Linked DNA regions of Homo sapiens. The protein of the gene in region 4 purifies or fractionates together with the protein of the main gene of each other region. This does not show direct contact. Each region holds a gene or a part of one and is shown on either strand. Other genes may lie near its edges.

What was found.
Region 1: the proteins of MSMO1 (region 4) and HTR2C purify together in Homo sapiens (co-immunoprecipitation; one large-scale study listed by IntAct). This does not show direct contact.
Region 2: the proteins of MSMO1 (region 4) and GPR107 purify together in Homo sapiens (co-immunoprecipitation; one large-scale study listed by IntAct). This does not show direct contact.
Region 3: the proteins of MSMO1 (region 4) and VSIG1 purify together in Homo sapiens (co-immunoprecipitation; one large-scale study listed by IntAct). This does not show direct contact.
Region 5: the proteins of MSMO1 (region 4) and PACC1 purify together in Homo sapiens (co-immunoprecipitation; one large-scale study listed by IntAct). This does not show direct contact.
Region 6: the proteins of MSMO1 (region 4) and HTR1E purify together in Homo sapiens (co-immunoprecipitation; one large-scale study listed by IntAct). This does not show direct contact.
Region 7: the proteins of MSMO1 (region 4) and PDHA2 fractionate together in Homo sapiens (co-fractionation; one large-scale study listed by BioGRID). This does not show direct contact.

Annotation. Positions count from the first base shown.
Region 1 is NC_000023.11:114,590,586-114,594,085, reverse strand, and holds part of HTR2C (5-hydroxytryptamine receptor 2C isoform a precursor), read right to left. Parts: intron 1-3,500. UniProt on the Homo sapiens protein: G-protein coupled receptor for 5-hydroxytryptamine (serotonin).
Region 2 is NC_000009.12:130,102,406-130,105,905, forward strand, and holds part of GPR107 (protein GPR107 isoform 3 precursor), read left to right. Parts: intron 1-2,014; coding exon 2,015-2,145; intron 2,146-3,500. UniProt on the Homo sapiens protein: Has been proposed to act as a receptor for neuronostatin, a peptide derived from the somatostatin/SST precursor.
Region 3 is NC_000023.11:108,043,684-108,047,864, reverse strand, and holds the start of VSIG1 (V-set and immunoglobulin domain-containing protein 1 isoform 2 precursor), read right to left. Parts: upstream 2,801-4,181; 5' UTR 2,735-2,800; coding exon 2,686-2,734; intron 1-2,685.
Region 4 is NC_000004.12:165,337,669-165,340,666, reverse strand, and holds part of MSMO1 (methylsterol monooxygenase 1), read right to left. Parts: intron 2,879-2,998; coding exon 2,730-2,878; intron 2,016-2,729; coding exon 1,889-2,015; intron 447-1,888; coding exon 292-446; intron 1-291. UniProt on the Homo sapiens protein: Catalyzes the three-step monooxygenation required for the demethylation of 4,4-dimethyl and 4alpha-methylsterols, which can be subsequently metabolized to cholesterol.
Region 5 is NC_000001.11:212,404,887-212,408,386, reverse strand, and holds part of PACC1 (proton-activated chloride channel), read left to right. Parts: intron 1-3,500. UniProt on the Homo sapiens protein: Chloride channel gated by pH that facilitates the entry of chloride ions into cells upon exposure to extracellular acidic pH. Involved in acidosis-induced cell death by mediating chloride influx and subsequent cell swelling.
Region 6 is NC_000006.12:86,940,528-86,944,027, forward strand, and holds part of HTR1E (5-hydroxytryptamine receptor 1E), read left to right. Parts: intron 1-3,500. UniProt on the Homo sapiens protein: G-protein coupled receptor for 5-hydroxytryptamine (serotonin). Also functions as a receptor for various alkaloids and psychoactive substances.
Region 7 is NC_000004.12:95,838,658-95,841,964, reverse strand, and holds PDHA2 (pyruvate dehydrogenase E1 component subunit alpha, testis-specific form, mitochondrial precursor), read right to left. Parts: upstream 1,873-3,307; 5' UTR 1,815-1,872; coding exon 648-1,814; 3' UTR 501-647; downstream 1-500. UniProt on the Homo sapiens protein: The pyruvate dehydrogenase complex catalyzes the overall conversion of pyruvate to acetyl-CoA and CO(2), and thereby links the glycolytic pathway to the tricarboxylic cycle.

The DNA.
Region 1 (3,500 bases), on a different chromosome or scaffold from region 4:
TAATAGCCAAAGATATCTTAAATTTACTTTAAATAACAAAAGACAAAAAGAAGACATGTCTTCAATCACTCAGAAATCTTTAAGACATGAATCATTTCAAATGTAGGGCACTGGAGTGAATGGAAAATGACAAGTTAGAGACCTGAAGTGAATATTGACTTGAGATTTTATAAGAATTACTTAAGTAGCTGAAGAGTCATAACCATTAATCTTCTGGGGCATAAAATCAACTACCTGAGTATTATTATTTGAAGTGGATTTTCAGAATTAGAAACTGTTGATATTTTCTTAAAGTTGTAGCATTTGAAATTATCTCAGTAACCATCCAGTCTGATTTTCTCTTTTGGCGGAGGAGGACATAGAGGCTTATAACAGACTAGAACTTAGGTTCTAGTTAACTCCAAATTTGCACTATAAATACCTTTCCCACAGTGCTTGTGTCTTTTTGTATATTAATTATTCAGCAAATATATGTTGAGAGAAGCCACAATATGTAATGATATATGCAAACGGTAGCTGGGGAGTATAAACATGAATAAATTATAATCTTTGTTCCATGTGAATTTATAATCCAGTAGGAAAGATAAGACTCAAATTTAAAAGTGACGTGATGCATGTAAAACCTTTAACACCAGGCCTGCCTCTAAAGTATAAGTTAAAAACCAAGTAATAAAAATAAAATGCGATAGAAGCCAGGTGCAGTGGCATGCACCTGTGGTCCCAGCTAATCAGGAGGCTGAGGCAGTAGGTTCGCTTGAGCCCAGGAGTTCAAGGTCAGCTTTGGCAACATAGCAAGACTCCATATCTAAGGAAAAAACAATGTAATACAATGTGCTAAGTGCCATGTAAGAGGTGCAAACAATTATGTCTATTTTCTTAAAATTTAAAATGGAAATTCTGGTGTTCTTAAGTATGTGAGTGTAACCTAGATGACTTTTTAAAATATGGCCAGTAGTCTTTTTACACTGCACACACAAAATTATAACACATTTGCATTCTAAGCATTGCTTCTTGGCTTTATAGTCTGTATGATATCCTTCTTCCTCACCCCCTCCAATCAAACCGTACATCTTTCTCTGAATTAAGCATGAGGATTTGTCTGCAGTCATTTCCTAATGTTCCCTGTTAGCTGAAGCTCATCACTTCATAACCCACTTTAGAGTCCCTGGGTTTCATTCTGATATTCAGCAGCTACTTTGGTAGCTGACAACTTTTAGCCTTATCTATGCTCTGCCCAGGAATTGGGTAGCATTATTTGGTGCCATTGTAAAGAGAGTGGGAGATGTGCAGAGTTCAAACATGAGATAGGGAGTTGTCTGAAATGAGCTTTCAATTACTAACCCTAAGAGTCTATAATCACAATGGAATTTAAAAGGTGGCACATTTGAACAACATTTTTCAGAAATAATTCTGAAGCTGTATTAATGGACTGAAATGGGGAATAATTAAGAAAAGTTATCCACGAATGAATCCAAGGTAGGAAGGACAAGCATTATTTCAATTATCATAAGAAATTAAAGAAATCTGGGAGAAGGGATAGAGTGTTTTTTTAATAATTTCTCACTCTATAAGTGTTGTGATAAATGTATTCTGTATTATACTAGAGAAACAAATGAACTTTTATTTGATCTTGTTGCTTCATTCTCAATCAAGAGACTCAGAATATCCACTATGTTTGTACAAATTTGGCTGCCTTTCTGAAAATGGCACTTACCCAAAGTAAAGTATAAATCTATGGTAAAAATTCAAATTACTTTATAACAATGTATTATCTTCTCAGCATTCAAATGTTTTTCACTTTTAAATTCTGAATTAGGTTGGTGCAAAAGTAATTGCGGTGAAAACCACAATGGTGAAAACTACAATTACTTTTGAACCAACCTAATAAAATTTGTGGGAGTTTTCTCCATGTTCTCTTCCCCATTTTATATATTATACAATTTGTGACTCTATATTTGTAACCTTAGGGAAGTCAGTCATATAACCTCAGTGGTTTCTGTATTCTGTATCTGTTTATAACAAAGAGGTTAGTTTGAAGGATCCTTACAGAAAGATTACCTAGTATAAGGCTCTCATTTTGGAGTTGTGGAAACTGAGGCCTGAGTTAAGCAAATGACTGGACCATTTTTTTCTTCATTCATCCTGAGTGAGAGAGTAGGAAAGAGAGAAATCAATGTTGCCTATACCATAAATTGCAAAACTACATTATTACATTGAATTGCCTTTACTGTCTAACAGTACTTATTTGTTTCCTTAGGGAAGTATTGTAGAATATGTTTTTCACCTCATTAGCATCCAACAAAGTGTTAAATGTACATTAAGCCCTCAACTGAAATTCTCTTGCTGAATTTCAACTAAGCCATTGCTGAAATTCCATAATTCTTACAGGCTTTTCTTTATTCATCTTCATCTTACAGTTCACTAATTTGGCAGATAAATATGGACAGTGAATTTTATAGATTTACTTACGTGAAATTTAGGAAATTGGCTGAGGTTTGGTAGTAGAAGCAGGAAAATTTGACACAGACAGTTACCCAGTGAGAGGTGGGTAATAATCCTCCAAACTAAAGAATCTGCCCTTGCTAACTTAAATAATACTTTGGAGAGCAAGTCATTGTATCAATGAATAGTCATTTGGGCGCATAATTCTACCATACAAGTTCTTTTCCATTTACATAGTGATTTTAAAAATAGATATAGAGGTATGATGAAATGACTAAATAAATAAATCTATTGAGAAACCAGCTCATTTCTGCTTTTTCAAAATGAAGTTTCAAAAAATATTTGTTGGAGAGACACCAGATCTTCCTTGTTTTACTTCCTTCAAGAATGAAGTAATCAACTTCTTTCTGAATCTATTTTAGACTAACATTACATTTAAAACTAAAAGATACAGGCCTATTAGACCTCTGGGAGTCATTGACCAACCAAAAATGCTAGAACAATCTACCCACAAGCCACAAAGCATTAAATTAACTGTTTAATTAAGATAAAAAAAACTAATAGATTCATGACGTGATCACTCAGAGCAATTCATTAATACTAATGTCTGATTTCCTTTAACAGTATAAAAAGGAAGGAAATAAAGCTCTTATTTACAAGTTTATTTGCTGCAAAGGCATTTAGGAATTGCTATTTTAAAAAGAAAACTTGCGCTTCTTTCTGAGCCATCAACCCATACCGCAAAATGGGTGCAGAACTCAGTTTGCTAATAAAAAGAGAATTCTATAGCCATGCATGTGGTCAATGAAATGGTCTCTCTCTCATATATGTATATATAATGGTGTATTTCACTGTGAAATGGAAAATAAAACAGTGTGGTAGGGCTAAGCTTTAGCTAAACTAATTTAAGAAGATTTATAATATTTTTATTGCCCTAAAATATGTTCAGAGAAATTACCTGAAATCATTTCAGGGGAAACTGTTATTCTGTTAGATGCCTTGAATTCTTGAATATTATTGTGCAGATGTGCTAAAAATTCTATTTTAGCTCTTCCTTC
Region 2 (3,500 bases), on a different chromosome or scaffold from region 4:
AACCAGGCTGTCGTGGGGCATAGCCTTCCAGGAAGCCCGTCCTGGGCTTCCCTGAAAGACAGACACACAGAGTTCCATGGAATGTCAGTCTGAGAAGATAAGGACATTTAACAAATTAAGAAAGTCATGAGTATTTAGACAATAGAACTAGTCTGGGAGGGCCTTAAATGTCAGCCTGAAAAGTTAAAACTGCTTCCTTTTGGCCATGGGCAGTGACAGAAAGTTTCTAAGTAAGGAGTAGATGATGTCCCTGCAAAATGGTGTTTCAGGAACACTCTTGGCACGTTGTTCAACACTGGGAACATTCTGTCTCTCATGCAGTGTGTGAATTAAGGACAAAATGGAATTTTGAATTTAAGATGTGAAAGCCTTTGTTTTCTACTTTGTCCTCTTACTTTTAGACAGGGTCTCACTCTGTCGCCCGGGCTGGAGTACAGTGGTGATCATGGCTCACTGCAGCCCTAAACTCCTGGGCTCAGGCGATCCTCCTGCCTCAGTCTCCCGAGTAGCTGAGACCACAGACGTACACCATCACACCTGACTAATTTTTAATTTTTTTTTTTTAATTAGAGGCCGTGTCTCACTATTTTGCCCAGGCTGGTGTCAAACTCCTGGGCTCAAGCAATCCTTCTGCCTTGGCTCCCCAAATTTCTGGGATTATGGGTATGAGCCACCGCACCCAGCCCTACTTTGTCTTTTTAGATGGAGCCACAGATGCTAGTGTTTTGGATAGACAGGGCTTCACGAGCAGTGTGGGACAGGGAAGGACCCAGAAGCTGGGGGTCATTGGAGAGGCTGAAATTTCAGATAATTTTTGCATTAGTTTTAAATGAAATTTCGGATAATTTGATTCTAAGTCCTGTATAGAAAGAGAAATTAAACTTAGAGACTTCCTAAATAATAGCACTACAGATTTTACATGCAAAGTGTGGAGGATTACCTTTTACAGCAAGTCAGGCAGAGATTTGGGACCAGGGACTTCTCATGGGGTATATAGGTGGAATGATAACCTCTGCATCCATTCCCAGTGGTAATCTTCAAAAGGATGTATTATAAGTGGTAAATTTCCCTTATGCTCTGTGGCATCTCAGTTTAGCCAGTGGAAAGACTTTTTATAAAGACTTATGCTAAGAGCCTAATAACGGGCCTGAGTACAGAGCTTAATAGTGGGCCTGAGTATATGAGGCTGTAGGGCTGGAATCAGCCATGCTCACCCTCTGGTCTCTGAAAACACAGTTCCATTGTCTGGCACTTAGATGAGTTATTGTCACTGAGCACCATGGCCTGAAAAGTATGGGCATTGTGGCTAAATAGGGTGTTAAGTGCCACCTATCCAGCAGTCCAGCACCTGAGTGACTCCACTGGGTTTGGGGTACCTGAAAAGCAAAGTGTCCCTGTTATCTACTGCTGCATAACAAATCACCCCAAAACTCAGCGACTTAAAACGACAATAACCCGTCATTCTCTCTCTCAGTTTCTGTGGGTTAGGAATTCAAGAGTGGCTAGCTGGGTAGGTCTGACTTGGGTCTTGTGGTCATAGTCACACCATGGCTGGGAGCATCTTGAAGTCTCCACTCGCATCTGTCTTCTGGGCTGAGAAGCTTGCTCAGGTGGGGACTGGGACAGCCGGGGCTCCTGGGGGGGCCTTTCCATCTCTGCATGGTCTGTACAGCAGGGTAGTTTCAGGGTAGCCAGACTTCTTACAAGAAGGCTTAGGGCTCCAAAGGTCCCAAGAGAGCTGGGTGGAAGCTTTATCTACCTTGGAAATCACACAGCAGTACTTCCATCTTACTGTATTAGAGCAATTACGGCCTGTGCAGATTCAGGGGGGTGGCATAGAGACTCTCCTTGATAGCGGAGTGGCAGAGTTCTGGAAGAGCACGTGGGACTGGAAAGAATGCTGTGGTCGCAGATCGTGGGTCTGGAGGCCAAGGTGTACACCCCACATTGGGGCTGCTAGCATCATAACAGTCCACCCATGCTTTGGGGCCTCAGCAACTTCTCATGTCTGTAGGTCCTGGCAAATGTAGCCTACATCATCATAGAGTCCACCGAGGAGGGCACGACTGAATATGGCTTGTGGAAGGACTCTCTATTTCTGGTCGACCTGTTGTGTTGTGGTGCCATCCTCTTCCCAGTGGTGTGGTGAGTAGCTCACAGGGAGGGAGGCCACATGACAGCTTGGCTGTCAAGCCCAATAGCTGAACTGGCCATTCCCAAACTGATCTCAGTCACATGGGACGTGTGTTTAAAAGTACAGCTTTCTGAGTCCCAGACTGACCTGAATCAGCCTCCAGGGGCAGAACCCTGTGTCTTTTTCCAGTTACTCGGGGTATTCTGGCAGAGCTAATCCGTCACCATGAGCTGGCATTTAACAGAGTTCTAAGACAATAGAGAGGAATTGGGAAATGAGAACTTGGTAGTAACTTAAAGTAGCAGCCTGAATTTGTGGTGGTGGTAGGGAGTTGGAGAAATCCCATAAACAGCCAGTTCTTGCCAACTTAGGTGGAAAATGAGGAAGTTCATTAACATAAAACTAGTGATAGTTCTCAGCACACAAACATTTTTGATGTTTTCAGAATGGATTGCTCCATTCCTGGAAATGGCAGTGTTTAGATGCACAGATTGTGCATTGGGTCTGTGTAAAGAAGTGTTAGTGTCAAGTCAGTGGTTGATGAGAAAATATCCTTATTAAATCACATGCAGAGTGGTAGAAATTCAGAAGGCTAGCAGCAATAAAACACTTTACCCTTAGTGATATAATTCCATGGCTATTGGAATGCAATTCTTTTGAAATAAATTTTAAAGAAAATAGATTCACCCCGGCCTTCCATTACAAGTGCTTCTTTTTTTTTTTTTTAACCCGAGATGGAGTTTCGCTCTTGTTGCCCAGGGTGGAGTGCAATGGCTCAATCTCGGCCCACTGCAACCTCTGCCTCCTGGGTTCAAGTGATTCTCCTGCCTCAGCCTCCTGAGTAGCTGGGATTACAGGTGCGTGTCACCATGCCTGGCTAATTTTTTTTGTATTTTTAGTAGAGACAGGGTTTCGCCATTTTGGCCAGGCTGGTCTCAAACTCCTGACCTCCGGTGATCCACTTGCCTTGTCCTCCCAAAGTGCTGGGATTATAGGCATGAGTCACCGCAGCTGGCTGAGGTGCTTCTTATTGCAATGCCCCATCCAGTAAATTAATATTTTTGAGGATCCTGGGGTTTGTCAGTTACTCTCATTATTTATAACATGGTGCAAATGGAGAGTACTTCTCATTCCAGCCAGTTAGATTCACTCTTCACCCTCATTCCATCATACATCACACATGATCTCGTATCAGTTCAGCAGACAGCTACCAGCATAGAAGAGAGTATGAATGATGCTCCCACCTCAGCCTCCTGGGTAGCTGGGACCACAGGCACACACTACCATACCCAGCCAATTTTTTGTAGACAGGGTTTTGCCATGTTGCCCAGGCTGGTCTCAAACTCCTGGGTTCAAGTGATCTTCC
Region 3 (4,181 bases), on a different chromosome or scaffold from region 4:
TATATGTGTATATATATATGTATATATATATGTGTATATATATGTATATATATATGTATATATATATATATATAGAGAGAGAGAGAGAGAGAGAGAGAGAATGTCTTGTATTTTGGTGGTGATTGTTCATTCATTTAATGCCTACAAGGTGGCAAACATTTTGCTTATAGAAGGATTATTATCCTCCTAATGTACCACAGCAAAATATCCCCCAAATATTCATATTTAATCTGATAGATTTGAAGTGATTTAATTTCCAGCAACTTCATATATAATAGATTCATTTTGACTTAGGAAATAATATAATCAAATGATCACTCACTTTTTTGGATTTGAGTGCAAACTCAAAGTTCAAATATATTACTCCTTTAAAATGCATAGCATATACCTCCAGAAAATGAAACCCACATTAACATATCTTTCTAAGAGGTGACTAATACATATTTCAAATACCTAAAATGATATGCATAAATTTTTTGCAGAAGTTTGATTAAAACTCGTTTTCCTGAATTAGAATTTAACCTAAGAATTCCTAAGAAGTCATTGAAAATATTTTGATTTAAGCAAAATCTGACCTGTTTAGTTATATCAAAATCAATTTTAAATATGTATGTGAAAATGATGTCTGGATGTTTGGAATTTGGGAAAGTAATTCATTCTTTCAACAAACATTTACTATGCATCCACTATGTGTTAGGCACCACGCTTAACACCAAAAAGTGACATTCTCTCCAAAACAAGTCCAGGAAGAACATCAAATTGCACATTGATGGAAACACTATCAGTTGTCCAGATCAACTGATGAACACTGCTAATGACAGGTGTAGATTACTAAAGTGATCCTTTCTCTGACTTCAATACATATGTAAGCACAGCAAACGACAATAGAGCATACCACAATTTGCTGTACTGACACTACTGCTTTGGGCCAACTAGATAATATGTGTGTAGATATATAGTGTACACTATATACCAACAAAATCAGTTATATAGTAACTTAGGAAACACACTCTGAAGTATTTATTGGTCTTGTTCTAAAAGTCACAATAAAATAAAATCCTGACATGATGCTAAACAATTTTTTTAAACAATAAAAAAGTATACAAGGAATAAACCCAATTTTTAAAATGTAATATATACACCTGCAAATAAAAGAATAATAATTCACCCAAATCTGAGTGGTAAAATTGCAGATGATTTTTATTTTATTTTAAATTTCCATATTTCCAACCTTTCTACAATGACCATGCATTACATTTATAATCAGTAAAAATTACTTGTATGTTAGGTACAGTTAAAAAAAAAAAAAACTGTTCTTAACAACCGTTCCAAACCCTGTGCCTAGTATGGGCCAGGGCAAGGCTTCACATAGGGAAACAGGTATGATCTTAGAGGGCTGATGCAGAAGGCCCAGGGGTCGACCCAACTGGCTAATGACTGGAAACCCTTTAAGAAGAGACAAAACTTCCATATCTAAAGTTACATTTAAATGAATATGCCTGGGGAGAAGGGAAAATAGGAACATGTGTTTCCAGCTCTAGGGCCTAGTTAGGTCACTGGACAAATGGAGTATTGCCTTCTGGTGATGTTTAACTCCATAAAACATCTATGCTTAAACATTTAGTAATGAACATTTAAAGAACTATTTCTAAACATGAGATCACTTTGAAAAGTAACACTTTTTTCTAATTATAAAAATAGCATAATGTTCTTCGTAGAAAACCCAGGAAGTATGAAAAGCTGGGAAATAAAATTAAAATCATCTATAATCCCATCACCCAGAGGCAACCACCATGAGCACTTCGGTATATAACCTTCTAGTAATTTATTCTAGGCATATGTGTGCATCCTGCTTTTTCACTTAATATTTTATCGTGGGTATTTTCTTATGTCATTAATACGCCTAGTAAACCTCATTCTAACCACTGCCTAATATTACTAATGGCTTGAAAATCCTGTTTTTGGATAAACAATATTATTGTATTTACTATGGACCTAACTTATAAGAACAGATGCAAAATGTATCTGATATTTGAAAACTACCCAAGGGATTTTTGGAATTAATGATCTCTCCTGGATCTAACTAACATCAGTATTTTGATTCCAAAATTGATTTTCTTCTGTTCAGATACCTAAAATCACCCATGTTGTGCACCATAAATCACTCACATATTTTGCAAAATACAGTCTTAGGATTGGAAAACCACAACTCCTTAAGAAATATTAGACAGTAAAGTACTCAGTAAATTTCTGTTCTTCCCATATGTAAGCCAGGGCAGGCCCTCCAACCCAGGCTCTGCCTGCTAGAGCAAGTCAATCACTGAGCTTAAAGGAAACACTAAAGTAAGTAAAACAGAGACAAAATTATCCCTAGCACAAAGTTTGGTTTCTGAGTAAATTCATTTTTTTCACTTTTCAAAGTAAGTAAAGTAATAAACTATATTTTTTTCTGAGAAAATTTTCATTCAGAAGCTCCATAAAACAATAATATTATGGGCTTACACCCCTAATATATCAGCATGGCATATGTTTGCTAAGCAAGAGTTCTGAAAATTAACTCATCATACTAATCACAATTCATTTGAAGTACAGGAGATGAAAATTCTATGTAAAAATGTGGAATTTTTATTTAAAAGGAAACTCTGTTTCCAATTATATTTGGTGGTTTGGAGATCCTTTCCTTACCTGCAAGGCAGCTTAGGATCAGAAAGACCTTCCAAAATGCGAACACCATTGTGTGGAGGTTAGTTGAGAGCAGCAGGTGCCAGTAGCTTGCCTGGACTAGGCTGAGTCTCAAATTGGCTTCTTCGATCACACCGAGGTTTGCCTGGCTTATCTGCTGGGCATCGCCAAGCAAACATGCCTCTTTGGGCTTACTTATTGCGTATAGACTTTTTTCAGTACAGATTTGTGTTTCTTTGAAACACTTTTCATGGGGCGTGTTTCCTTGATATATTTGCTACTGTGTTAATAATAAACCCACGCATTTAAATTATTCAAGCTCCTTGTACACAGATTCTCTAAGTCTCATTGTTTAAAATCAATCTTACTAAAACGTTGTACTTGGGCTGGGGGATATGGTTGGAAGAGAGCCTATGCAAATAAAAGCTGACAAGGCTAATTAATTTCAAATATTTCCATGAGTCTTACAGAATTGATTCACTAACCTCCTTTTACAAATTAAGTTAGTAAATTGGTACTATATCGTTTCCTGGGGAGATGGGGCTCACGGGAAGGGCACAGGGGTTATGAAGCTAAAAAGCATTCATTTCTGTGTGAACAAACTCTGGATATGTTACTCTTTTTTGAAACACTGGCAGTTGTCACTACCCTCCACCAAAACTAGCAGTAAAATGATTTACATGCTTTTGTCTGTCGGGTTAGAAACCTTATAGCACGTATTTGCTAACGTAATTTTGCAAAATCAAGTTAGTGAATACATGCTTAAAGACTTTCTTTGGAGAAGTCTGATTTTTTGGAGAATTAAGATACTCAGTAAATGCTATAGGGTTTCCTTAGAAATGGAGGTTCACCAGGAGGGCATGGGAGGCTCCACAGGTAAGGAACTTTCATGGGAACATGAACTTCTAATAGTGTTCCTATTATGCTTAAGTTACCCGGAGAAACCTAAGGACTTTCTCTGGCTCTTCCCATGTGATTTCTAAGTCCTATCATTTCCATCTCCACAGCGACTTTCAGATGTGTTCTTTCTCCAATCTGCTGCTTCCATCTTGGTCCAGGTACTCAGCTTCCCACTTTGGCCTATCATAGCAGCTTCCTAAGTGGTCTCCCTGACTTATTCCACCTTCATCCTGTGTGCCAGCCGCAGGCCAATGTTCCAGCCCTAGTGAAATATTTCCAGTAACACCATAAATGGACTCTTTCATCAAATCCAAAGTCCTTAATATGGATTCCCATTCTTCCAATATCTGATCCTCACCTCATCTGAACTTTAGCCACATTAACTCATGCCCCTGAAAAAGTATGTCAAGATTTATTGCCTCAAAGTGTTCAGTCACATGAAATGTGTACAAATTTCAAGTGATATGTTTTATGTTCCTGTCTTTAATTTACAGGAAATGTTTGACCCCATCTTACTTTAGCCATTCCAATCTCCCACTGCTTCTTAGAAAGCCATTTTGCTTCCATCATGCCTGATTCCTCCTTGCAGCCTATCCTGT
Region 4 (2,998 bases):
TTTTTCAAATATGAGTTAAGTTTAGGTTTATTACAGAAGGATAAGGAAATTGCTGGTCCTGAATATATACTTGCCCTAATAACACATTATCACTATAAAAATTATAACAGCATAGGCTAGAATGTAAAAACATCTATTATTTAAACTTTTATCCAACAGTTATGTTTTCTTAATATAACATTAAGAAGATTAACTTCTCCTATTAGTCTCCTTAGAAATATGATAATCTTATGGCCATGAAAATAAATATATTTCATTATGCTTTATACCTGAACAGAAATTAATACTCACCTATGGACATCAATAGTTTCTAATAAACGAATGGTCACCCATGCCCAAAGAAGAATTACATGATCACACAAAAGCACGATTCCAATGAAAAATCCAGTTCCAAGAATTAGAGTCTCCAAAGGATGTGCATATTCAGCTTCCATTCCAAATGGAGCCTAAGACAAACAGATAAGAAATTCTTAATTTCTTAGCTATTGTGATGGTCAATTTTATGTGTCAACTTGGCTAGGCTATGATATCCAACTGTTTGATTAAATACCAGTCTAGATGTTGTTGTGAAGGTATTTTTTAGATGTTGTTAACATTTAAATCAGTAGACTGAGTAAAGGTGATTACCCTTCATAATGAGGGTGGGCTTCATCCAATCATTTGAAGGCCTTCAGGATAAAAGGCTGAGGTTTCCTGAAGAAGGATTCTCGAGACTGCAACACTGAAACCCTGCCTGAGTTTCCAACTTGCTGCTCCATGGAATTTGGACCCAAGGCTGCAACAATTCTTACCTGGATTTCTAGTCTGTAGCCTGCTTTACAGATTTCAGACTTGACAGCCGCACACTTGCATGAGCTGATTCCTTAAAATAAATCTCTCTCTGCATATATATACCCCAATGATTCTGCTTCACTGGAGACTTCACTAATATATATATCCTATTTATGCATAAAGTTTTACAAAGTTATATTGATTCTATATGTAGTGATGATTTATCTAGTCATACACTTATAAATAATACTAGCAATTCTCAATAAAAATACCTTACTCCACATCAAAAGTCTAGGGATATAAAATCTTGCTGTCTTTGATGGTTTAAGATAAAGGCATTAAATAATTGACTTGAACTCTAATTTTGACTTAAGTATTTATATTTGTTCTTCTAATAAAGAGAGGCTTGATTTGGCACACCATGTAATCACGGTCAATGCAAAACATACTCACATAACCAGTTGACAAAGCTACATCAAAGCAATTCTAATTGGCCGGGCATGGTGGCTCACGCCTGTAATCCCAGCACTTTGCGAGTCCAAGGCGGGTGGATCACCTGAGGTCAGGAGTTCGAGACCAGCCTGACCAACATAGTGAAATCCTGTCTCTACTAAAAATACAAAATTAGCCACGCGTGGTGACGCATGCCTGTAATCCCAGCTACCTGAAAGGCTGAGGCAGGAGAATTGCTTGAACCCAGGAGGTGAAGGTTGCAGTGAGCTGAGATCATGCCATTGCAGTCCAGCCTGGGCAACAAGAGCAAAACTCTATCTCAAAAAAAAAAAAAAAAAAAAAAAAAGCAGTGCTCATAGAAGTTACTGTTTTTGTGGGAGTTAGCAATGTGAGGATCTAGCTGTGCCAGTGTAGCACTGTCCACAAGGATGGAAGTCCGAACTTTCATATAATATTTTTCTTTCAGATCTCAATTTACCATGAAATTTAAATAATGAAAACAATGTGTAGAAATGGCTTGTTTGTATGTGTGTGTATTGTTCTTAATAATCATGCCAAAGGAAAAGAAAATAAAAACGTCACCAACAATTTTAGAAAAATGCTCAGGCAATTAAAATAGACATTTTGCCTCTAACAGAAAGAATTAAATATAACTCTCACATACCTGAAACTCATGATGAACTTTATGAATATACTTGTATATTCTTTTGTGGTGTAAGAGTCTATGCAGAAAATAGTGCCAAGTATCTTCAATGACTGCACAACCAAAGCATCTTGCCAAAAGAAAATACCTTTAAGATAAAAATGTTGTAATGTGTAAGAAATAATTTTTACTTAAACTATCCAGACTTTTAGTTGGGATCACTGCTTGAGACATTACATAAAACCACCCACCCACTTACCAGGTTGACCTAATTGGATATATTCATAAATAAATTCTCAAAACCACCAGATACAGCTACATAACTTGATATAAGGTTAAAGAGACTGCCCATTAGACCAATTTCATTTCATTACAATGTTCACACAACTTGCCTCATGACACTTTTCTCAAGAGATATCCGTTAAGTGACGCATGAGTATATATATGTGTGTGTATATATATATGTGTGTATATATATATATATATATATATACACATACATATTTTTGTTCATGTAAACACAATTTCTATAAACCTCATAAATGATTCTCATATATTTCATTCATTTTAAAATTAAAATGTAATATATTTTTGTCAACATAAGCACTTATACATGTATATAAACATACAAAAGACGTTATGGAAACTTCTGATACTAGAAGCTCACCTTCCAATAAAATATTTAAAAGATGTAAAAATGGAAACATTTTAAGATTTTACTGTGGTTTACTTTTCTACTATTTATTTACTTCCAAAGTTTAGAACAAACATTAACTAAAATTAAGAAAACGGGTAAACATTAAGTATAACTTAACTGAATAAGCCACAATTGGGTGTAAAAGCCAAATTTTTATCTACGTACCATCTTGGCATTCTTTCCCAATCATAAGGAATATTGAAATACTCTGTAAAATAATAGGTTCCACAAATCAAAGGCAGCTGGATACAGAAGTGATTAAAGAGAAGAACTTTGAAACACTTCCATTGGTTTTCCCATGTCTCTGGCTTATCCTACGAAGAAAAATCACAATATCTAATATTAGTCTCTGCTATCAGAGTTTAACTTGACCTAATTTGTTCTCTGTTTATGTTGGACCTTAATTCTACGTCAGTTATGTTAACTTTATATAA
Region 5 (3,500 bases), on a different chromosome or scaffold from region 4:
CTCTGCCTCAAAAAAAAAAATAAAATAAAGTAAAAAAAGACTGCCTGGAAGGAAGGAGGCTGGAAGGGCAGCTAACATTTCCTGACTGCTTCTCCTGTGCCAGGATCTGTCGTACCCCATTTGCCCCATTTAATTCTCACATCAACCCTGTGAAGTGGTTATCCCCCTTTTACAGATGAGGCCCCCAACCTCAGGGAGGTTGAGTAAAGCATGGGGAGGTCATATAGCTGGTAAACACAGACTGAGTCAAACTCTGCCCAACCCTAAACTCTCTCTACTACACCAGTGGTGTTTTCTTTTTTTTTTTTTTTTTGAGATGGAGTCTCACTCTGTCACCCAGGCTGGAGTGCAGTGGCACAGTCTCGGCTCATTGCAACCTCTGCCTCCCAGGTTCAAGTGATTCTCCTGCCTCAGCCTCCCAAGTAGCTGGGACTATAGGCGTGTGCCACCACACCCAGCTACTTTTTTATTTTTAGTAGAGATGGGGTTTCACCATGTTGGCCAGGCTGGTCTCAAACCCATGACCTCAGGTGATCCGCCCACTTCAGCCTCCCAAAGTGCTGGGATTACAGGCGTGGGCCACCGCACCTGGCCTACATCAGTGGTTTATAAAAACTATTTTAAGTGGTGGTAATCCCAACACTTTGGGAGGCCAAGATGGGAGGATCTCTTGAGGCCAGGAGTTTGAGACCAGCCTTAGCAATAAAATGAGATCCTGCCTCTACCAAACAGACAAAAACCAAAAACACTCACACAAAACAATAAGCATTCTTTTATTAAAGCCCAATATGTAAAAGATAGTAGCACGGCTAATCCTCCCTCTGACATGAGGCATTGCCTCTAAAGCCCTAAGGCTCCCGGGAGAACAACTTGAAAGACCTGTATATTAGTTTTCTATTGTTTCTATAACAAATTACCAAAAACTTAGTGGCCTAAAAAAACACAAATTTATTATCTTATAGTTCTGGAGGTCAGGAGTCCAAAATGGATCTCACTGGGCTAAAATTAAGCTGTCAGCAGGCCTGAATTCCTTTCTAGGGGCTTGAGGAGAGAACTTGGTCTTTGCCTTTTCTAGCTTCTGGAGGCCTCCTGCATTCCTTGGCTTGTGGCCCCTTCCTGCAGCTTCAAAACCAGCAGTGGCTCGTCGAGTCTTTCTCACATGACATCACTCTGATGCTGACTCTCCTGCCTCCCTTTTCTGTGTTTAAAGGGCCTTTGTGATCACATCGGGCCCACCCAGGTAACCCAGGATAATCTCCCTGCTTTAAAGTCAGCTGATTAGCAACCTTAGTCCCATTTGCTGCCCTAATTCCCCTTTTCCATGCAACTTGACATATTCACAGGTTCTAAGGATTAACACTTGGACATCTTTGGGAGCCTTTATTCTGCCTACCACACCTTGCACTACCCTCTTGCCCCCAACCAGAAGTGCATAGATGGAGGCAGGAGAAAGAAGAGGAGGGAGGCCAGACTTGGAAAGATGAGGCTTGTCTTTGTGTTTCCTTTCATAGAGAAGTGCCCAGGTAAATCAGGAGGTGGCCCTAATGTCCTTGGACCTTAGCAGCCTCTCTTTTGCCTCAGATTCCTGGGGCTGCAAAGCCTGGGGTCAATCAGAATAGGAAGCCAGGCCTCAGGCAGAGCAAATTTTGGGTAGTTCCATCAACTGGCAAGAGCATTCCCACTTGCTTTGGGGTAGCCTTCCCAGTTGCTTTGGGGGAACCAGATGAGCTGGGCTCATCTCCTTTCTAAATCACAGAAGATTCAGATCTCAGGAGTCCATTTGGCTGGGTCAGTAGTGAGTTGGCTCAAATTTGATGGACTGATACACAACTCTCAGAGCTCATTTCTTGCCTCTGACTCTTCTTTTTTTTTTGAGACAGTCTCCCTGTGTCAACTAGGCTGCAGTGCAGTGGCACGATCTTGGCTCACTGCAACCACCACCTCCTGAGTTCAAGCAGTCCTCATGCCTCAGCCTCTTGAGTAGCTGGATTATAGGCACTTGCAATCATTCCTGGCTAATTTTTGTATTTTTAGTAGAGACGAGGTTTTGCCATGTTGGCCAGGCTGGTCTTGAACTCCTAACCTCAAGTGATCCACCTGCCTCAGCTTCCCAAAGTGCTGGGATTACAGGCGTGAGCCACCATGCTTGGCCCCTTTGAGTCTTCTAATAATAATAATAAAAATAATGGTAATGGTGATAGTGGTTGCCATTTTGGGGGTGCTTTCATGTACTAGGCCTGTGTAGGGCTTTAGGGCTTTTTTTTTTTTTTTTTTTTTTTTTGTGGGGTGGGACCTTGCTTTGTGGACTGGGCTACAGTACAGTGGTGTGATCATGGCTCATTTCAGCCTCCCGAGTAGTTGAGACTACAGACATGCGCCACCATACCTGGCTAATTTTTAAATTATTTTTAGAGACAAGGTCATGCAGTGTTGCCCAGGCTGGTCTCAAACTCCTGGGCTCCAGTGATCCTCCTGCCTTGACCTCCCAAAGTGCTGGAATCACAGGTGCAAGCCATTGCTCTGAGCCTATAGGGCTTTTTATATACACTTTATCCTGTAATCTTCACAGCCACTCTGTGAGGTGAACGGTTAGTCCTAGTTTATAGATGAGGAACCCAAGGCACAGACGTTAAGGAATATGCTCAGAGCTCATGAGTGGCAGGGCTCAAATCCATACCCAGAGCTGTCTCGCAAGGTGTTCTGACTCTGGCTCAGTTGTTCCTAGATGAGAGCTTTCCTGCTCCAAATTCTCCCCTCCCTGTAGCAGATCAATTAAGGACTGCTTCACTTGTTATGCCAAGTGCTGACACCACAAAGAGGGTGAGTAAGTTCCTCCAGGAACTCAGGCATATAGAGACAGAAGGCCGGTTACCCAAGGAAGAACTTGTCCCTCCTTCTGAGCCTTCCTTGACTTCCCTGATGAGGTCCCTTTCTCCCTGTGATATGCTTTCCTTTGTAACAGTTAACACAGTTGATAGGTCACATTTATTGAGTTTAATTATTCAGTTAATTGTTATCCATCCCTTGGCACTGCCCTACAAGTTCTGTGAGGCACACAGATTTTGTCTTCTCCTCCTTTACTGTAACTCCAGTGCCTAGTGTGGAGTGTAGTATGGAAGTATGACTCCATAGAAGTATGAGTACTGTAGGTACTCAGTACCTATTTGTCCTCTGGGGGAGAGCAGTGGAGATTTAGAGCAAGAGAGCCTCTCATCTAGGAGCAACTGAGCTAACTGGAATGAATGAATGAGGGCCAAAGAAATGGTAGAGTCAGGTGCTTCAAAATTAATGAAGGGGCCTGGCGTGGTGGCTCACACCTGAAGGGGCTCACACTGTGGCTCATCCCAGCACTTTGGGAGGCCAAAGCGAGCAGATCATCTGAGGTCAGGAGTTCGAGACCAGCCTGGCCAGCGTGGTGAAACCCCATCTCTACTAAAAATACCAAAAAAACTAGCCGGGGCATGGTGGCAGATGCCTGTAATCCCAGCTACTCAGGAGGC
Region 6 (3,500 bases), on a different chromosome or scaffold from region 4:
CTTGTCTCAAAAAAAGAAAAGAAAAGAAAGAAAAAGAAAGTAGGTCTCTTTGCAGAAAGCCTCAGGCCCTGAACTTTTGTGTCATCTTCTCATTACTCAAGTCTAATTCCCTACATCTCACTTTTACACACAGATCATTTTTTTCATGTTTGTTTTGATTGCCCACCCTGGAATTCTATTTCTGCACTACCCTTTAAAAGTGAAAGATCAAATCTAACGCTCTAATGTGGGAAAGCATTCCCTCTATTTCTACAAGCTTATTTACACAAAAAAATAAGCTTGAGACTGATCAAAAGCTGAATTTCTACCAAATAGGAACTTACTTTTTATGCCGTAAATTATCAAGGCCATCTCAAGGCAGAGGTGAGTTTAGCATCTCATGCTTTATGCTCCTTTCTTCTGCACCTACCAGATTTTTATTACATGTGAAATTATATGAACATAAACCCCAGGGAAACATTGAAGATGAGTGTGCCGTCACAAGTGACGAGGGGACAGATGAACAGGGAAGAGAAATGGGGCAGCAGCACTTTAGAGTGACTTACTTCTCTCTTGTTTTCTCCTCCCTGAATCATTTTCTAGAACCAGTATTGTGGCCCCTAAAATTTGGGGCTTAGGTCAGTCAACTTACCAAAGTTCATCTTCCTGGTGATGAAAGGACTTTCATCAAAATCCCAGCTACTTTTTATTCGTTCCCACATTTTGTGGATTAAGAAACTGAGAACCAGAATTTATAGAGATCACTCAATCAATTGGCATATTCCCGGATCACAACAAATTGATAAAATTCTTGAGAACCCTCTTTCTAATACAGATTGACTATAATTTTGTCTTTCATTTTTAGTTCTCTTATTTTGTCTCATGCACTGTGGATTATCTGGTTTACTGCAGTCCTTACCTGAATAGATGTCAGTGTTTTGATCCCATTGTTGTATTCCCCTAAAACACGTCAAATGAAAAACTGGACACTTTAATAGGTTTATTGTTAGCACTCTCTCATGCTGATCAATTCTCAACACATGCAGTTGTAGGATTAGGAAGACAAAATCCTTTAGAAGAAGCTATGAAACCTAATCCTTCTGCATCTGGATCATTTTAAACTACAAGTTGTAAGAGGAATGAGCATCTCTGGATTCTAGTTATCAGTGCAGACCAGATGGAAGGTCTTTATGAAATCTGGTATGAGAAGGAAAGCATTTTATAGCAAGAAGAAAATATTTTGAGAAATAGCTACCAGCAGCAGCAGCTAGCAGTTCTAAAACTCTCAGATCCTCCTAATGACCCCATTAGGGAGGGAGGAAGGGAGCAAGGAAGGAAGGAATGAAGGAAGGAAAGAAGAAAGGAAGGAAGGAAGGAAGGAAGGGAAGGAGGGAAGGAGGGAAGTGTTATAAATATTGGTCAGGGAAAAGTTTTATTATTAATGACAGATTAAATAATTAGCTACTAGGAAAATTCAAGGGGATACATAAAAATGCCATTAGAAAGAATAAGAGAACCCAGTAAGGTGGCTAGCTACAATAGCTTGCCTGGTTAGCGACAATATAATCATAGGGATTTATATTACGCTTGTACACTGTTGGGCAGAAAACATGCCTGAGAGGTATAAAAGATGCTGTTAGCATCCAAGAAAAATGGGAAAGGAAAGCCCACCTCATCTGAGGAAGATGGAGGAAGAAGAACCTACAGAAAAGGATTCCACATTCCAAACTCATCCCTCTGAATTCAGTAATATTTATCCTTATATGATTTCTGACAGTGTAGTTTGTCATTGTAATTAATTCTTTCCTGTAAGTAAACAAGAATTGTATACTTACTTAAGTACCTTACATTTTAAACTTTATTACATAGTCCTAATTTTAATGTTGAACTCTGCCCTAGTCAAGGAAGTATTTGTTACCTAACACAAGAATTTGATATACAGTCATCCATAAACACTATCCTACCATATAGTTCATCATAATTTAACATTCAAAGAAAGAAGCATGATTTCCTCTTTTATTATGCTTTCATTTGAGCCATTTTAACTTTCTTACCATTCTTTCCTTCTGAACCTAATTCAATTCCTTACACAATGCTCTAAAAAATCAAGGATTAAATATGTAACTTAATTTATAATTAGCAAATACATCATTTACAAGATGCATTCATATTGGCAAGCATATTTTATTTCATAGATTGTAAACTGGTAAAACAATGTAATCTCCTCACCCTCTCTGCAATACAGTAAGCCTGTTTCTAAGACCATCAAGGTTTTACTTTATGTCCGAGGCATTGGAGAACCAGACTGTACTGACCCCAGGGTTTGGTGACTTACATATAAATGAAGCATCTTACCAAGAAGGGATGAAAAATGACTTTAGAGGAAGCAAAAGTCTCAAAGCTCACAAGACTTGATTACTTTCAGCTTGGTGACAGAGGCAATGCTCTTGTGATGCAGATGGAGTAATTTCTCCAGCACAAAAGATGTCCAGCCGGGTCCCATTGGCTTTGAGATAATCTCTCACATTGCATTAAGTGTACTGAGTACCCTTTCTCAGACTTATGTACCATTAGCATGCATTTAATTAACAGTTAATGATTACATAGTATTGTTACTATTACCACATAGTCCTGTTATATTAAAATACATGAAATTTGTAGCTATGTTTTGCCTGTTTAGTAAAATGAGTCTGAATCTAAGGGTGAGAGGGTCTACACACAGCCAAGAGGATGGGGTATTAACCCAGGCCTGTGTGAAGATATTTGCATCTCATGGAATGCTCTCCAGAGAACAAACTGACCTACCCTGTGCATGTCAGCTAAGCTCCCGCCAGCTTCCTCAGGGCTTGCTGAATGTACAGTGAGTGCCACAGTGCCAGCGTGGCAGTGAAGCACAGGCCCAACTCTACGGACCTGGGGTCAGAAGGCCTGGGTTAATACCCCATTCTCTTGGCTGTATGAGCTGCATGGTCTGTCATCGTTACAATGGGGACAATAATACATGCCCTGTCTACCTCAGCCTCCTTTCAGGGAAGTTTCTCAAAACAGAATATGCTATTGTGATTCATTGTCACCTGTGATGTCAAACTGCACCTTGTGTTATACTACTAGGGGGTAACACAGCATGGGGCTCAAGCCCAAGCTCTCGAGTCCAGAAAGCCAGGTTCATATCCCAGCTCTGCCATTCATTAACTGCTTTCACATCTCTAAACCTCAGTTTCCTCATTTGTTGGGGCTCACATAACAGTACTATGTCATAGGGCTATTTATGAGGATTAAATGTGTGTATTCATTATTGCTAAATAATAAATTACCCCAAAACCTAATGGCTTAAAGCAACAGATTTTTATTATCTCTATGATCATAGTTCCATGGGTTGGGAATCTGGGTATGGCTTAGCTAGGTCCTCTGGCTCAGGTCTGTCACTCACAGGCTGCAAAGTTTCAGCCGAGACTGCAGACATCTCAAGGCTCAACTGGGGAAAGGTAACGCTTCCAAGCTCGCTCACGTGGCTGTTGACA
Region 7 (3,307 bases), about 69 Mb from region 4:
ATATGAAAAAAAAAAATCCTTGTTCTTCCTCCCCTGCCCTGTTAAATATCATATATTATTGGAAAAACGGTCAGTGTTAACAAACTTCAGCACCACGTGTGTGGGTGTGCGCATGCGCACACTGTTACACTAAACTGTATTCGTTATTAGGTAATTCAAGTAAATGGTTACATATCCATAGGTGTCCTGAGTAGCTTGAAATAATCTCCTTACCTCAGGATGGTGATTCTACATAGAAACCCATGGCAGGGGAAGCAGGAAACAACTTTCTTTTAAAGAAGAGAATGCATTAAAATAGTATAAAGCTAAATCAAATGGAACTGTTATGACAAACAGTTTGGGAAGTTAAATAATCTCCTTTTCCTATTTTAGACTTGTATAAGTTCAAAATAATCTTTAAGATATTCACACTAAATTGTTACCTATATAGTATCTTTTAATGCAAAAATATACAGTATAATTGAATATAATATCACTTTTATTGAATGCATGTCTTTCAATCTCTTTTAATAATCTCTTTTAATAAATGCTTACAAGGCTTTTGTTTTATGAGTTTTATTCCTCCTTGAGTTGAGAACACAGTTTCTTAAATTTGACCATGAACATTCCATTGAGAGACTGATGATAAATTCACACGTAGCCTCCCTTTAACTGACGGACTTAAACTTGATCCATGGATTTGCACCACGAACTTCAAAAGATGAATCACTGCTGTAGATGTGATGGCCTAATTCTTCCAAATGTGGCTCAGGATCAGTGGTAGCAAACTGGGCAGCATCATCAATTTCTTTCCTCACCTCAGCCCCAATTTCCTTTAATTCTTCCACAGTGGCGAGCTTGCTGTTTACCATTCTATCTTGGAGAATTATTATAGGATCCCTCTTACTTCTTACTTCCTGAATTTCTTCTCGTGTACGATAACTGACTCCAGGATCACTCATACTGTGTCCATGATAACGGTAGGTTTGCAGCTCCATCAGTATGGGCCCCTTTCCAGATCTACAGTAGTTAGCTGCAAATTTTGTTGCCTCACGAACACACAGAACATCCATTCCATCGACCTTTAGCCCAGGGATAAAATTGCCCCTCTTGTAGTAATCAGGGCTGGCTGCTGCTCTCTCAGTAGATGTTCCCATTCCATATAGGTTATTCTCACAGATGAAAACACAAGGTAATTTCCATAAAGCTGCCATATTGAAAGCTTCGGCTATCTGCCCCTGATTCGCAGCGCCATCCCCATATAAAGTCAAACAGATCTCATCGTTTCCTTTATATTTACAGGCCAGAGCAATGCCAGCGCCCAGGGGGCCCTGTGCACCGACGATGCCATTGCCCCCATAGAAGTTCTTGGTATACATATGCATCGATCCTCCTTTTCCTTTAGCACAACCTCCTCTTCTTCCCGTCAGCTCTGCGAGAATGGATCGGACAGAAAGTCCCCGAGTATAGCACACACCATGAGCCCTATAGGATGTAATGACGTGATCCGAGGGGTTTATGCCGGCCTCAAGGCCCACGCAACAAGCTTCCTGACCATCGCACAGGTGACAGAAACCGCGAATGAATTTCTGTTTGTACAGCTGATCTGCCTTCAATTCCATGCGGCGAACAGTCAGCATCATCCTGTAGTATTTAAGCCCCTCCGCCCTAGTGAGCACTGTAGTGACAGGGGGACCCTCTTCCAACAGATAAAGATCACATTTCTTAATTTCAAATGTAGCGTCATTTGAGGAGTTACGGGATGCCACCAGCACTCTGCGAGCTGATTTCTGGGCAACTCGCCTCAACACGCGGGAGATGAAGGCGGCCAGCATATTCTTCACGGAGTGCTGTAGATGGCAGCGGCGTCCCGTAACGACCGCCGGAAGGCCTGGCCTCGGCTCCGCGTCTCCTTCCGGTGCTCCAATGCGCTTGGCACCATCCGGGCAGTGCACACGGGTGATAGAGGCAGGTCCTGCACAGCACTGGGACATGGGCCACGCAGCCTGAGCTGACTGATTTGTACAGTGCCTGCCAGCTGTAAAATGAAGACTAAAAGTGATTTCCTTTTCTGGAGGACTTGGGCAAACTACAGGGCATCCTAATCGCCGTCATTGCTGAACCTCAATAATCTGAGTCCCTTTTCCCTGTTAAACCCTGGAGCACTGTATCTCAAGCTTTCCCGACAAGCGTATCAAATAGAAGAAAGGAACAAACTCAGTCCCTAAGGCACATGAGAGTTCTGAGAGTTAGTCCAAAGGTATTTCTTCCTACCAATATTTCTTTAATGTCTTGTTTTTGATCTTTAAAATAGGTATGAATATTTATCCTGCTCCATAATGTGCCATATGTATTTTAAGGTAACAACAAAGCTGTAAATTATTTGTAGCTTAATTAACTTTAAAAACAAAACAAGCACACGCACGTTAACAAAAACCCCTTTTAAAGAAAAGTCAGTACTCTCAAATAATATGCCACATTTATCCTGATGGCGTCTAGCACCTGTGACACTTGAAGTGGGGAGGGAAAATGTATACAAACCTCGGCCTGAGGATAACACTTTAAACCCAGTAATAAACTTTGCTTGGTGTGGGAAAATTGGAAGCAGGGAGAGAGGGTTGAGGTGCAGATTGTGGTAAAAAGTTTGTAGTTTGTGACATTCCACTTTTCCTTACTCTGTTTAATAATTCTGAATCTCTGTTTTTACCTAGTTTTATCCCTATTTTCTGACTACTTCACTTTTGCTCTTCCTTTTGTTTATTTCCTCTTTTTTTTCTTTTTGGTTTTCTATAAAAATGTCTTCAGCAGGTTTCCATAGACTTTCAGGTGGTATTTATTTATTTATTTATTTATTTTGCTTTCATATCAATCAAACTGGACCAGCCTTAGTCCAGGAAATCTAGAAACATGTTCTTATAGTGCCTTTTTATGTAGTAACCATTAGAAAGTGTTACTTCTTATAAAGTGACCCACCAAACAATACACAGTTTGGACTACAAGAGAGCAACAGAGTTTGCTTATGCCACTGGAAACCGTTCAATCACAAGAGAAGAGAAGCCTTAGACCAAGGGATACAAAGATCACATATCATTTCTCTCTTTTTGTGCTTTTACCAGGAAGGCGATTTTGTGCCCCAATAAGCCAACCCTAACTAGGGATCCTGTTTTATTTAGAATATTAAGCCATTCACCTTAATGCATGCTCTGTTTTATATCCATTGCCTATTTGCAAATGATAAATTCTTACCCAAATGTCCCTATTACATGTTCAAAGCAGCTGCCTTCTCTATATCTAGTTGCAGGTGTTATTTTGGGCACTTCTTTTAATA